Homo sapiens: one gene and its partners. The protein of the gene in region 3 purifies or fractionates together with the protein of the main gene of each other region. This does not show direct contact. Each region holds a gene or a part of one and is shown on either strand. Other genes may lie near its edges.

Region 1 (3,535 bases), on a different chromosome or scaffold from region 3:
TCCCAAAGTGCTGGGATTACAGGCGTGAGCCACCGTGCCCGGCCATCTCTTTATATACAAATTTTATTTTTGTCTTTAGTTTGCCTTTTTCCATTACTCTGTTTATGCTGCTTATCTCTCAGGCCAAGAAGTCAAAGACCAAACTTCAAAGCTAAATGCGATTTTTGATGATGAGTGCTCCACGTCATCACTTATGGGAAGCAAACAAACTTAGAGAATTCCATGTGTGTGGCAGAATACAAGCTGTTTACAACTCTAACAAATATGGGTTCAAACTTCTGTACCACTGATTGATGTGAGGTGACCTTGTCAAGTTAGTTACACTCTCTGAACCTCAGTTTCTTATTCAGGAAATAAGAACTGAAATTGTCCAAAAAGGTTAAACCTTCGTATAAGGGTTTAAAGGATTAAGAGATACAAAAGTACTTAGTGTAATCCCTGGCAAATAGTGTGCATTACAGAAATTAGATCCCAGGCCCACATAACCACGGTTTTTTTTTGTTTTTTGGTTTTTTTTTTTGAGACAGGTCTCACTCTGTCACCCAGGCTGGAGGGCAGTGGCACGAGCATGGCTTGCTGCGGCCTCAAACTCTCGCACTCAAGCAATCTTCCCATCCTCCCACCTCAGCCTTCCAAGTAGCTGAGACTATAGGTGCACACCACCACGCCCAGCTAATTTTTTATTTTTTTATAGAGACAGAGTCTCACTACATCACCCAGGCTCAAGTGATCCACCCACCTCGGCCTCCCCAAGTGCTGGGATTACAGGCATGAGCCATCACGCCCAGCCCCAGTCAAATTTTTATTCTCTGAAAGTCTACCAAATGTTTTAACTTTCCTAATTTCCACATCACTGACATATATTTCCCAGTTCCAGACCAACAGTGATCCCTTCCATTTCTGGGCTCCCTATACATTCATGCTCTGACTGCCTTTCATTTACTAATAGTTGGGTAAGAAAGGGAGTTGAATTTTGTCCATCTTTTCCCTACATTTCTTCTCCCACTCCAGAAAGAAATCTAAAGTCATGTTATAATTTTTTCAAAAGCTCTACTGAGGAATGAAAAAAATGTTTAGTACCCAAAAGATTTCAGACATTACAAACTTTGAGAATATTCATTGGTAACTAACTCCCGGCAAAAGAATACAAATCACCATCATGATGTTAACCTAATTCAGATTCATACACTCAGAAAACATTTTTAGAAAATTAACTATACCCTCCAAGCTGTCTTGTGTAGAGAAATAAATAAATAAATAAAAATAATTAACTGTATCACAGAATTGTCACACAAATTATCTCTGTAGATCCCTAGGAAGTCCAAAGGGATCATGAACAACATACATATTTAGTTAACTAAGGTAACTAAAATGGCCCAATTCTTTACTTAAAACAGGTGAAAGAAATAAGAGATCTATTAGAACAGCTATGATCTGAAACACTGATGCCAAACCCTGGTGAGGATGTGGAGCAACAGGAATTCTCATGCATTGCTGGTAGAAACACAAAATGGTACAGCTACTTTGGAAGATAGTTTAGCAGTTTTTTACAAAATGAAACGTACTCTTACCATGTGGTCCAGCAATTATGCTTCTGGTATCTATCCAAATGAGTTGAAAATTTATGTCCACACAAAAACCTGCACATGGATGTTTATAGCAGCTTTATTCACAATTGCCCCAAACTTGGAAGCAACCAAGATGTCCTTCAGTAAGTGAATGGATAATTAAGCTGTGGTACATCTAGACAATGGAATATTATTCAGTGATAAAAACAAATGAACTATCATGCCACAAAAAGATATGTATAAACCTTAAATGCACTTTACTAAGTGAAAGAAGCCAATCTGAAAGGGCTTACATTCTGTGATTGCAACTATATTACATTCAGGAAAAGGCAAAACTACGGAGATAGTAAAAAGACCAGTGGGTTACCAGGTGTTCTGGGGCAGAGAGGGAAAAATGAGTAGGTAGAACACAGAGGATTTTTAGGGCAGGAAGACTATTCTATATGATACTATAAAGGTAGATTCATGTTAAGTGCTAGAAAAGACTTTAGAGATCTAGTCTACCCCTCTTATTTTACTGAAGAGACTTCCAAGAGAAGATGACAAAATAAATCTTATATAAATCCCAAGTTAAATGAATCAACCAACTAGCACATGCAGCTTCCAAGATCAAAACTTACCGCTTAGGTTTGAAAACAACTTTCTGGCCTCCTTCAAGTATCAGTAAGGCTTTCAGCTGTGTCCCTTTATAACCCACATCAGCTTTAATGATTTTCTTGGTGGCCATGGCATGCATGACTGCCCCCAGCTCTGGTGTCTCTTCAGGGTACACTTCCCGGGGAACCACCCACTGGGCTGCAATCTCCCAGGGAGACTGCAAGGTATGGTCCAGCTTGGGTGCCAGCTCCACCCGCAAGCCAGTCATCATTCGGTGAAAGGCCCTCTGGTCCTCCCGGTTGGCAGCTGATGTATCTAAGTTGTCAATCAGGAAAACTTTGGTGAAGATAAAAATGACAAGGAGAATTGCTAACAGCACGACTCGCTGCTTTAGCTTCATGTTGACCTCTTTTCCTTCTCCCCTGACCCACTCTTGCTCATGTATTAAGGAGAGCTGGTGGTGATGGTTAGCAAGGAGATTCCATGATTATACACATTGGTCCATTTCTTCACTGATGCACCTTCCACAGTTCCTGCAAGCCCAAGTACAAAGCAAAATTTGATCAAAAATTCTGTCCTTCCACCCCTGAATCTTTTGTAAGCCTCTAATATATGACTCACCCTTTTAGGCTTTCTATTCTTGAGCTCAAGAAGGTTCAATAATTTAAAATTAACTAATCTGGAGAAGGACCTAATGATGGCAGCAGTGGCCCAACTGGAGCAGCTGCTGCGAAGACACCAGCTGCAGTGGGAGAGGCATGGCCAGGGCTGCACACTCCACGGAGCTGGAAGGAGCTGGGAACAGGTGGGAGCCCTGCCCTCTTCCAAGATGGTGGAGCAGGGGCCCCGTGTTCCTGGGTACAGCTGCAGCCACCCAGCCACAGCTACACCCACAGGCTCCAAAATGCCACTCCTGCTGCCTGGCCTCTCCCCACTCCCCGCACCCACTCTGGGGTGGAGCAAAATTGTGGCAAAGCCCAGGTGATGTCGTGACCTGTATATATGTGGTTGGGGCAGTGCTGATACACCAGGCCCCTGCTGTCTCAGCCCACTCCGGACTTTGGGCACCAATGAGCATGGGAGGGAGGCCAAGGGAGGACTGAGGATGGCTCAGTGTAGGCCTGCAGGCATCCCTTGGTACAAACAGCTTGGGCACTGTGGATGACATGAATGGTGGCAGGAGGCAGGCTCCTGGGCGGAAAGGGATGGGTCCCCAGTGAAGCCCCACCTTCAAGCCAGGGATGGCCTGAAGCATGGGGGCTGGGCTGTCGGTTCTGGTTAAGAGTCCGCAAACCACAGTGAGAACTTATGGTGCTTTTTCTGGGCCCACCCATGGCCACCCATGGGCCAATCAGCACACACTTCCTCTC
Region 2 (3,535 bases), on a different chromosome or scaffold from region 3:
GCTTATAATCAATGAAATGAAAACAGCTACAGTTCCCATAAACGTGTAAATGTTTGCTCTTCACCACAGAACTATGGGAATGTTTTCTTGAGATTGTTAAATATATGAAATATTTTATTTAGAGAGAAAACTTTTACCTTAGAGCAAAGAGTTCACCGATTTTCTGCATAACTTCTTCATGAGATAGTTTCACTTTCTTCCCAGCTTTTAAAGCCTAGTTGAGAGGGAATCGGAAAAACCAAAAAACCATGTATCTCTCTTTCTAATAAGCATTAGGTCAACAGGGCAAAATCTGAAGTGGCATAATTTGGATCCTATGTAAATATTTTTTAGGATGGCTGTCTCCCAGATTAATGTCTTAACTCACCTTGAAATTTCATAATTTTATTAGGTAGAAATTGTATATTCTCTTTTTTCATTTCCCTTCTCATCAGCATTTTCAATGATATATACATTCCTAATCTCTTAGTAGAAAAGCAGGGCCTCCTTTCCGAAGTATAATTAGATTACTCTTTCACAATAAAGACACAGTTAATTACAATATGATGATTTTTAATGTATACTGAAATTTCAATATAACTTTATATGTATTTTTCATACCACTATTTTTCTCATAATTTAGCAAAACACTTTCTTAAATCAGGAAAAGTGGTCATAATTTCCATTCTCAGAGAGAAACATTTCACTTTTTTCTTTAATTCAGTTACATTAAAAATACTGCAACTGACGGGCATGGTGGCTCGTGGCCTGTAATGCTAGAACTTTGGGAGGCCGAGGCAGGAGGATCGCTTGAGCCCAGGAGTTCAAGACCAGCCTGGGCAACATGGCCAGACCCCATTTCAATTATATTAATATTAAAAAAAAAATACTGCACCAACAGAGGAAACAATTTGAAGTTTTAAAAAGTAAAAAGTAATCAATATGAAGTTTCTTAATTTGTCATTTTATATGTAACTGGGAGTTCTTAAGTTTACTGTAGTTTTCTTATTGTTTGTAATAATGTTGTTGTACTCCTAAACAATCGGCCCTCTATAAGTTCTGCAACTGCAGATTCAACCAACTGCAAATTGACAGTATTTTGAGAAAAAAGAATGGTTGCATCTGTACCGAACATGTACAAACTGTTTTTTCTTGTTATTATTTCCTAAATAATACAGTATAACAACTATTTACATAGTATTTACATTATATTAGGTATTTTAGGTAATCTAGAGATGGTTGAAAGTATACATGAGGATATGCATAGGTTATATGCAAATATATACCATTTTATATCAGGGATTTGGACACTGGTAGATTCTGGTATCCAGTGGGGTCTTGGAACAAATCTCCCATGGATACTGATGGATAGCTATATATTGTTATATTGGGAAATTCATATTTTTTACATATAAAAATCAATCCTTGAATAAGCATAAAATTGATATAATTACCTCAGGAATTGACTGAATAGATTCAATAAATTTATCCAGTGATGCTTCCCAAATTGCCAGTTTTACTGGGAAAAAAATTAATAATGGAACATTTCTTTATCATCATATTCACATGTATATAAAATACATAATTGCACAGCATCTTCACTACTATTTCAGTAATAGTTTAAGAAAAAGTACTAAAACCTTGAAAATATAATTTAAGAATAGTTAATTATCATAAAGGACAGAATTAAAGTGGATAGAGGAAACTGAATCGCTTTCCATGCCCTATTGGAAGACCAAAGCTACATTTAGTAGAACTCTTGATTTTCTAGTATTACATCTTGGAAACTGAGGAGGGTAGGGTACACCTTGATACCATGGGTAGCTCTGCAGATAGGGCGCGACTAAGACTTTCCTGGCCTCCCCTTCACTCCTCAGGACTAAGAGTAAACCTCAGAAATCTCCGAAGCCCCTCAGAGTGGGATGGACAGGACGCTGCAGCAGCCACCTAAGGTAGACTGCTGGCAAAAGAAATTCTTAAAGAACTTGTATAGTTTTATTCGGGATGTGGATCTTTCAGAACAAACTTATAGCCACTGTGACTCTGGGTCCCATTCCTATGGAACACTAGAGTATGTTTTTCTACACTGGGACCTGTGCCCAGTCACACAAGGCTGGGCTTCTCTGTCTGGATTAGAGACTATCTAAGAATAACAATCGCATAGAGAGAAGAGAAAAAAACAAAGGCTAATATAATCATCATCTAAAAAATACTTTTGGAGAGGTTAAGCTTTATTAATACAATTAATAAGGAATGAGTAACTTCAGCACAGTACTATCTTTTATACTAGATATTTTTTCTGATGGAGGGAAAAAAAGGAAAAGGAATGCTAAGGCTTTGTTGAGTATTCTGAAAATATACCAAAATCGTGACTATTTAAACTTCCCTCAGTGAAATGACAACTGTAGTACCCTATCCCATAAGCAGTAGTAACTTACCAGAAAGGCATAGAGCATTGGAGAAAGCAAACTTCTCTAGAATGGCATCATCTAAATCCAGCTCTGAATTTAACTTGATTTCCCCCCTGTGAAGTTTTGACTGTCCCCTGTGAAAAGCAAAAAGATAATACCTTCTAAATCTTAAAAAGCACTTTAACTTTTCCTTTGAAAAAGACACCATATCATCTTTCTGGAGGTCATTTTGACAATTTGTATCAAGAGTGTTACAAATGTTCTCATATCCTTTGGTCCAGGTAATTCCCTTTCTAGGAGTTTATCCTAAGGAAATAATCTAAGATGCAAAGAAAAATTTGTATACAAGAAAACTTTTTTTTTTTTTTTTGAGACAGTCTCACTCTGCCGCCCAGGCTAGAGTGCAGTGGTGCGATCTCAGCTCACTGCAACCTCAGTCTCCTAGGTTCAAGCGATTCTCCTGCCTCAGCCTCCCTAGTAGCTGGGATTACAGGCATGCGTAACCACACCCAGCTAATTTTTTTTGTATTTTTAATAGAGATAGAGTTTCACCATGTTGGCCAGGCTGGTCTTGAATTCCTGACCTCAAATGATCCACCCACCTCGGCCTCCCAAAGTGGTGCGACTACAGGTGCGAGCCACCTTGCCCAGCTGAAAACTTTTAAAAAAATGGTCAGTGTTGGCTGGGCACGGTGGCTCACGCCTGTAACCCCAGCACTCCGGGAGGCCGAGGCAGGTGGATCACGAGGTCAGGAGATTGAGACCATCCTGGCTAACATGGTGAAACCCCGTCTCTACTCAAAACACAAAATAAAATTAGCCGGGTGTGGTGGCGGGCGCCTGTAGTCCCAGCTACTCGGGAGGCTGAGGCAGGAGAATGGAGTGAACCCGGGAGGCGGAGCTTGCAGTAAGCCGAAATCACGCCACTGCACTCCAGCCTGGGAGACTGAGCAAGACTCTGTCTCCAAAAAAAAAAAAAAGGTCAGTGTTTAAGAGTAAAAAATTAGGAAATAAACCAAATGTTCAGTAGGGGTTGGCTCAGTAATAGTCACTCCACACAAGAAAAACTTAAAAGTGTGTTTTGGAAGGATAGTTAATAAAAAGGAGAACGTTCACAGTAAATTTCTATGTGAAAAAATGCTGCA
Region 3 (2,261 bases):
CAGCATCCCTTTCAACAGGCAGAAGCTGGCATGGTGACACCTTGGCACAGCAAAGGATGGCAGAGGACTGCAATGCTTCAGCAGCTGGAGGAGGCAGGGGAATAGGAGGGATTAACCCAGCCTCCCTGGAGGGGACCAGGTAGACTGAGAACAGACAGACAGATGGAGGGGGAATATCAGGAAAAGTACATCACAGACCTTCCAAAGCTGATCATGATGTATGCACTGGGTCTCCACTCTGGTCTTGATAGAGCTGTGGCTGAAGGGGAGGCAGTGGGGAAATGGCAAAACAGTAGATTCTGAAACTCTGGGTTCGTTTTACCCCAGCCTCAATGAATATTTCTTTTCTGTTTTTGATTTTTAGTGGAGACAAGGTCTAACTATGTTGTCTAGGCTGGTCTCAAACTCCTGAACTCAAGTGATCCTGCTGCCTTAGCCTCCCAGAGTGCTGGGATTACAGGTGTGAGCCACTGCACCAGGCCTAAGAAAAAGACAGAACACAACTTTGTTTTTTTAATGAAATATTTGCCCACAGGAGCTTTAGGAGAGGAAGTGACTTTTACATTCTCTGGCTCTAATGGACAGCCACCCGTCCTCTAATGGGACCAGCTCTAACGGGACAAGCCTCACCCATCGGAACAGAAGCCATTAGCACAATTCTGCGATCTCACAGAGTTCCTCCCTATAATCCTCAGGTTCTTGGAGGAATCGCCCACTCAACCATGCTAACCACACCCGTGAGAGGAGCAGCCTGGGTAATGAACATCCAGCTCTGCCTCTTCCCTCCCTCTTTTATTTACCATAGACTGCTCCAGGGCATGAAGAACAAAAACCACCACTCTGTCTTGTTAAAATCCAAGTGCATTTTTTAGAATATGTGATTTTGCTTGATTTTATTTTATTAAAAAAGACTGGAACTCAGTCCCATATTCCTATTAAGTCCATTTTCCCAAGAGATGTCACTGTTTGAGATAATAACTTAAATATTCTTGATGTGGAGGTAGTCTCTCTCTTCCTAGTGGGATGTCTTCTTAGCTCCTTTCCCAAACTTGGCATCAAGACCAAGACCTATGAAAAGGAAGAAAATGGGCTTAGCCTTATGGGGGGAAATGAAACTTACCAATGATTGTGGTGGGGTGGGGTAGTCGGCCTTGTATCTCCAAAATGGGGGCTTTAAATAAAATACATGTCAGAACACTGGTTTTATGTAACTTCCTCAGAGACAAGAGAATGGCACCAGGATACTAGTTATTACAGATATCTGTATCTATATAAATATATCTATATAGAGATACAGATAGATATAGATACATATATAATACAGCAAGACTAAAAGAAATTTAAGAGTCAAAACTTCTAGGCTATGGCTGAATGTGGTGACTCACACCTGCAATCCCAGCATTTTGGGAGACTGAGGCAGGAGGATCATTTGAGCCCAGGAGTTTAAGGCCAGCCTAGGCAACACAGCAAGACCCCATCGCTACAAAAAAAAAAAAAAAAATTGGTCAGGTATTGTGGTACATGCCTATAATCGCAACTACTCGGGAGGCTGTGGTGGGTGGATCACTTGAGTCCAGGAGATCAAGGTTGCAGTGGACTATGATCATGCCACTACACTCCAGCCTGAGCAACAGAGGGAGACCCTAGGAAGGCTGGATTAGAAATAAAGCTTCCTTTTCTCCTTTTATTTTCTTTGGATACAGATTTTCACTCTGTCACCCAGGTGGGAGTGCAGTGGTGTGATCACAGCTCACCTCAGCCTCCACCTCCTGGGCTCAAACGATCCTCCCACCTCAGCCCCGAGTAGCTGGGACCACAGGCGTCTGCCACCATGCTCAGCTAATTTTTGTATTTTTTTGCAGAGACAAGGGTCTCATCATGTTGCCCAGGCTGGTCTCGAACTCCTAAACTCAAGCGATACTCCTGCCTCAGCCTCCCAAAGTGTTAGAATTACAGGCGTGAGCCACCACACTCAGCCTCTTTTCTCTTTTAAAAAAGTTTTCTCTGGGCTGAGCGCGGTGGCTCATGCCTGTAATCCCAGCACTCTGGGAGGCTGAGGCGGGGGGAATCACCTGAGGTTGGGAGTTCGAGACCAGCCTGACCAACACGGAGAAACCCCATCTCTACTAAAAATACAAAATCATCCGGGCATGGTGGTGCATGCCTGTAATCCTAGCTACTCCGGATGCTGAGGCAGGAGAATTGCTTGAACCCAGGAGGAGGAGGAGGCTCACCCGATTGGTGAGCTGAGATCGTACCAC
Region 4 (3,535 bases), on a different chromosome or scaffold from region 3:
TGGTGATCTCTGCTCAGTAAAACCTCCACCTCCCAGGTTCGAGCGATTCTCCTGCCTCAGCCTACTGAGTTGCTGAGACTACAAGCGCACGCCAACATGCCCAGCTAATTTTTGTATTTTGTGGTAGAGACGGAGTTTCACCATGTTGGCCAGGCTGGTCTCGAACTCCTGACCTCAAGTGATCTGCCCGCCTCAGCCTCCGAAAATCCTCAGATTACAGGCATGAACTACTGCATCTGGCCTGAATGGTACTATTATATTCATAGTCTCACCAATACAATTATTAAATAGCTATTATTCAAGTAATACATCTTTTCTAATACAAAACATTGAGAAAATTACAAGGTTTGAGGACCGATAAATAATATTTAACAATAATGATGATGTTAATTAAATACCAATTCAGTAAAACTTACATGTGGGCCCTAAATGTGTAGATAGGCTCTACATCTAAAGAGGCACTCCTAAAAGAGGGGGAAAAAGGGTAGGGGAAGAGAAGGCAATTAAATAACTATGAATCACTGGTTGATATTAAATAGTCATTAGATCAAATGTGTGCATTAAAGACATGCAACAATAATGAGGAATAATTACTTATATTAGCAAAATTGGAAGAAATACACCAGGCTAACACTAAAATACTTGCTTTTTGGCAGGAACTGTTTTTTGCAGGTTCCAAAGTTTCAGGGTATGGTCCTCAGAAGCAGTAACCAGCACAGGTTCTACAGGATGAAAAGCTAATGCCCGTACTCCATCAAAATGGCTACGTAGTGTATACTTGGGATTCCATGTCTTTCGAAAGGCATCTTTATTAGCAGGCAACTAAAAGGAAAGAGCACAATATTTAGTGGTAAAAGTAGTAAACTGGAAGGCATGTGGAGTGTTTGTTCGTTTCTTTTTGGTGTGTTTAACACATATATTTAAAACTGTTGGCTAAAATGTCCAGTGGAAATTTAATGTACCTTTAAAACTTTCTAAAAAAACTTTATCATTTAATAATAACTCAGAATAATTTCATTCGCCTTACAAATAGCCTAGGTCAAATGAAGAGTTCCTTAATCTGTTTTTACCTATTAAGCTAAACCCAAAGCTCCCATTAAATGTCAGATGAGAACAAAATAACTACCATTGCTGCAATACTTTACATGAAAAATAATTACATAAGTTATTACAAATATCCAACGGTACAGTATTAACAGTAAAGTTGTCATTTAGAAAACGTATTAGCATGTGAAATTATTAAAGGCAGCAAGTTAAGGTACTTTCTGAAAGTCTGAACTAAAGACCCTTTAAGAATATTTTTATCCCATTTTCATAATTCTTGATATTGACAGAGGTTTATCTTTTTACCTTCACATTTCTCCATCTGTAAAGATAGGCTGTGAAACCACTTCTAAAGCAGTCAAAAGTTTACTGGAATTTAGTCACTTATATACTTAAAAAAATATATTAATGAGAATAATCCAGCCCACCAAAGGCTGTCTCTAAGCATGCTAATGTTAAGTATAAAACGTGGAAAAAAGAAACTCATTATAAAAAGAAAAAAAAATTGCTGAAAAACTGCAATTAACATAAAGATCTAACAAGTATAGTTAACTCTCAATTGAAATATTAATGACTAGAAAAAATTAAATCCAAGACAAGTTTCACCTCTAACACTGGACTCCCCACTCCCCAACCCTTCCATCCACTCCCCAATCCTCTAATGAAGGAGTTAAGTATTCAGGAAATGATGCAAGCTAACTTTAAAATGTTCAGAAACTTTAAAATATTTCCTTAAGAAAATAAAAGTTCAAAAATAAAACATGCTTTTTAAGAAGTACTCTGAAGGCAAATATATGATTCAGGTTATTTTTTTTCTTGTTAACACCAAAATATGGCTTAATTTGAGATAATTGAGAGTTGACTACTCAAGATGTATTTACTGACCAATATATTAATCATCTCAAACTTCTAGTTAATCCACCAAAATACCTAAAAAAAAAATTTAAATACCACAAAGAGAGTAGTTATAAAAGAAAAACATGTCACTTCAAATCAACACATTGACACAAACTTATCTTTTCCATGCACCTTGATATTAATTCTGTTTTATAAGTGATTCCAAAAAATAAGGAGCCTTCTATTAAATCATTAAAAAATTAAAAATAAAACTGCACTTACATCATAACTATAGTCTGCATCATTTGTTACCGTCAAGTCTGCAAGGTCTCCAAGGCCCAGTACACTTAACAAAACATCATCAGAACCCATAATAAATGACTTGCCTCCTCCAGATGGAAACGTTATTGGTTCAGCTATAAAGAACAAAACCGCTTCTTAAATGCTGAAAAATCATACAGTACAAGACAATATTGTGGGGAAAATTTAAGCACTTAACAGTTACAATATTCAGTAATATAATTAATTTTTATTTTCCCACTTCTACTCAAAAAATCCTGTTACTAAGCAGTGTTAAACAAATGTGTTGGAACTGTGGTGTATTAACTGTCCACAAATAAAATGTGCACTAGATATATTATTCTGGGGTGGAAGCTAGGGCACAAAAGCTTTGTCTGTCTAAATCTCTTATCACTTCAGTACAATTATAACTATAGTTTACATGTTAAATAAGAAATAGGACAAATTTTGATTAAATAATGGAGTTAAATATCAGATTTTTGCATTCATGAGGGGAAACCTCTACCATGGACCTCAAGGACCTCAAAGTAGTCATATAGTATTTTTTAAATGTTAATAGGTTGTCACCAAGTCCTTTTGCTTTCTAAAGAAGTACTAGGCATCCTAGTCCCTGATAAAAACTAGTACAAACATTGAAATGTAAATGGTTTACAGTCAGCTATATACTATATCAGTTCACTAGAATGAAGCTTTAATTGTTCAGATTCCTTTAGTAACAGCAATGGTCTAGGAAAAAATTCTTCCACCAACAATGTCAGTTTCCTTTCTATAAAAGGTTAATCCACGTGGTCTTCAGAATGTCTTCCAGCTTTATTTATTTATTTATTTAGAGACACAGTCTTGCTCTGTCGCCCAGGCTGGAGTGCAGTGGTGCGATCTCGGTTCACTGCAACCTCCACCTCCTAGGTTCAAGCAATTCTCCTGTCTCGGTCTCCCAAGTAGCTGGGATTACAGGCGCCCGCCACCACGCCCGGCTAATTTTTCTGTTTTTAGTAGAGATGGGCTTTCACCATGTTGGCCAGGCTGGTCTTGACTCCTGACCTCAAGTGATCCACCTGCCTCGGCCTCCCAAAGTGCTGGGATTACAGGCGTGAGCCACCGCGCCCAGCCTGTCTTCCAGCTTTAAAGCTTTGACTATGACTTTTATTTTAATGTCCCATTCTAGTTACCATGACACTCTAAAATGAAGCAAGTAATCTTGACCACAGAGCTTTAATTTCTGATCAGATTTGCCATTTCAATTTCAAACTAAACTCAGGTTGAGCTTCACTTAGTTTTCTCAACTATATCATGTGCATTATTACAGCTTTTCATGTTAATATTAACAGTTCCAATTATTTAAAATGCGTTTTCC

What was found.
Region 1: the proteins of SLC35B1 (region 3) and FAM20B purify together in Homo sapiens (affinity purification with mass spectrometry; one large-scale study listed by BioGRID and IntAct). This does not show direct contact.
Region 2: the proteins of SLC35B1 (region 3) and RMND1 purify together in Homo sapiens (affinity purification with mass spectrometry; one large-scale study listed by BioGRID and IntAct). This does not show direct contact.
Region 4: the proteins of SLC35B1 (region 3) and STRN3 purify together in Homo sapiens (affinity purification with mass spectrometry; one large-scale study listed by BioGRID and IntAct). This does not show direct contact.

What each region holds. Positions count from the first base shown.
Region 1 is NC_000001.11:179,042,878-179,046,412, reverse strand, and holds part of FAM20B (glycosaminoglycan xylosylkinase), read right to left. Parts: intron 2,699-3,535; 5' UTR 2,566-2,698; coding exon 2,189-2,565; intron 1,641-2,188; coding exon of another isoform or gene 1,572-1,640; intron 1-1,571. UniProt on the Homo sapiens protein: Responsible for the 2-O-phosphorylation of xylose in the glycosaminoglycan-protein linkage region of proteoglycans thereby regulating the amount of mature GAG chains.
Region 2 is NC_000006.12:151,421,108-151,424,642, forward strand, and holds part of RMND1 (required for meiotic nuclear division protein 1 homolog), read right to left. Parts: intron 2,525-3,535; coding exon 2,418-2,524; intron 1,499-2,417; coding exon 1,434-1,498; intron 215-1,433; coding exon 138-214; intron 1-137. UniProt on the Homo sapiens protein: Required for mitochondrial translation, possibly by coordinating the assembly or maintenance of the mitochondrial ribosome.
Region 3 is NC_000017.11:49,700,443-49,702,703, forward strand, and holds the end of SLC35B1 (solute carrier family 35 member B1), read right to left. Parts: intron 1,069-2,261; coding exon 1,016-1,068; 3' UTR 501-1,015; downstream 1-500.
Region 4 is NC_000014.9:30,911,361-30,914,895, forward strand, and holds part of STRN3 (striatin-3), read right to left. Parts: intron 2,298-3,535; coding exon 2,164-2,297; intron 823-2,163; coding exon 647-822; intron 465-646; coding exon 417-464; intron 1-416. UniProt on the Homo sapiens protein: Calmodulin-binding scaffolding protein which is the center of the striatin-interacting phosphatase and kinase (STRIPAK) complexes.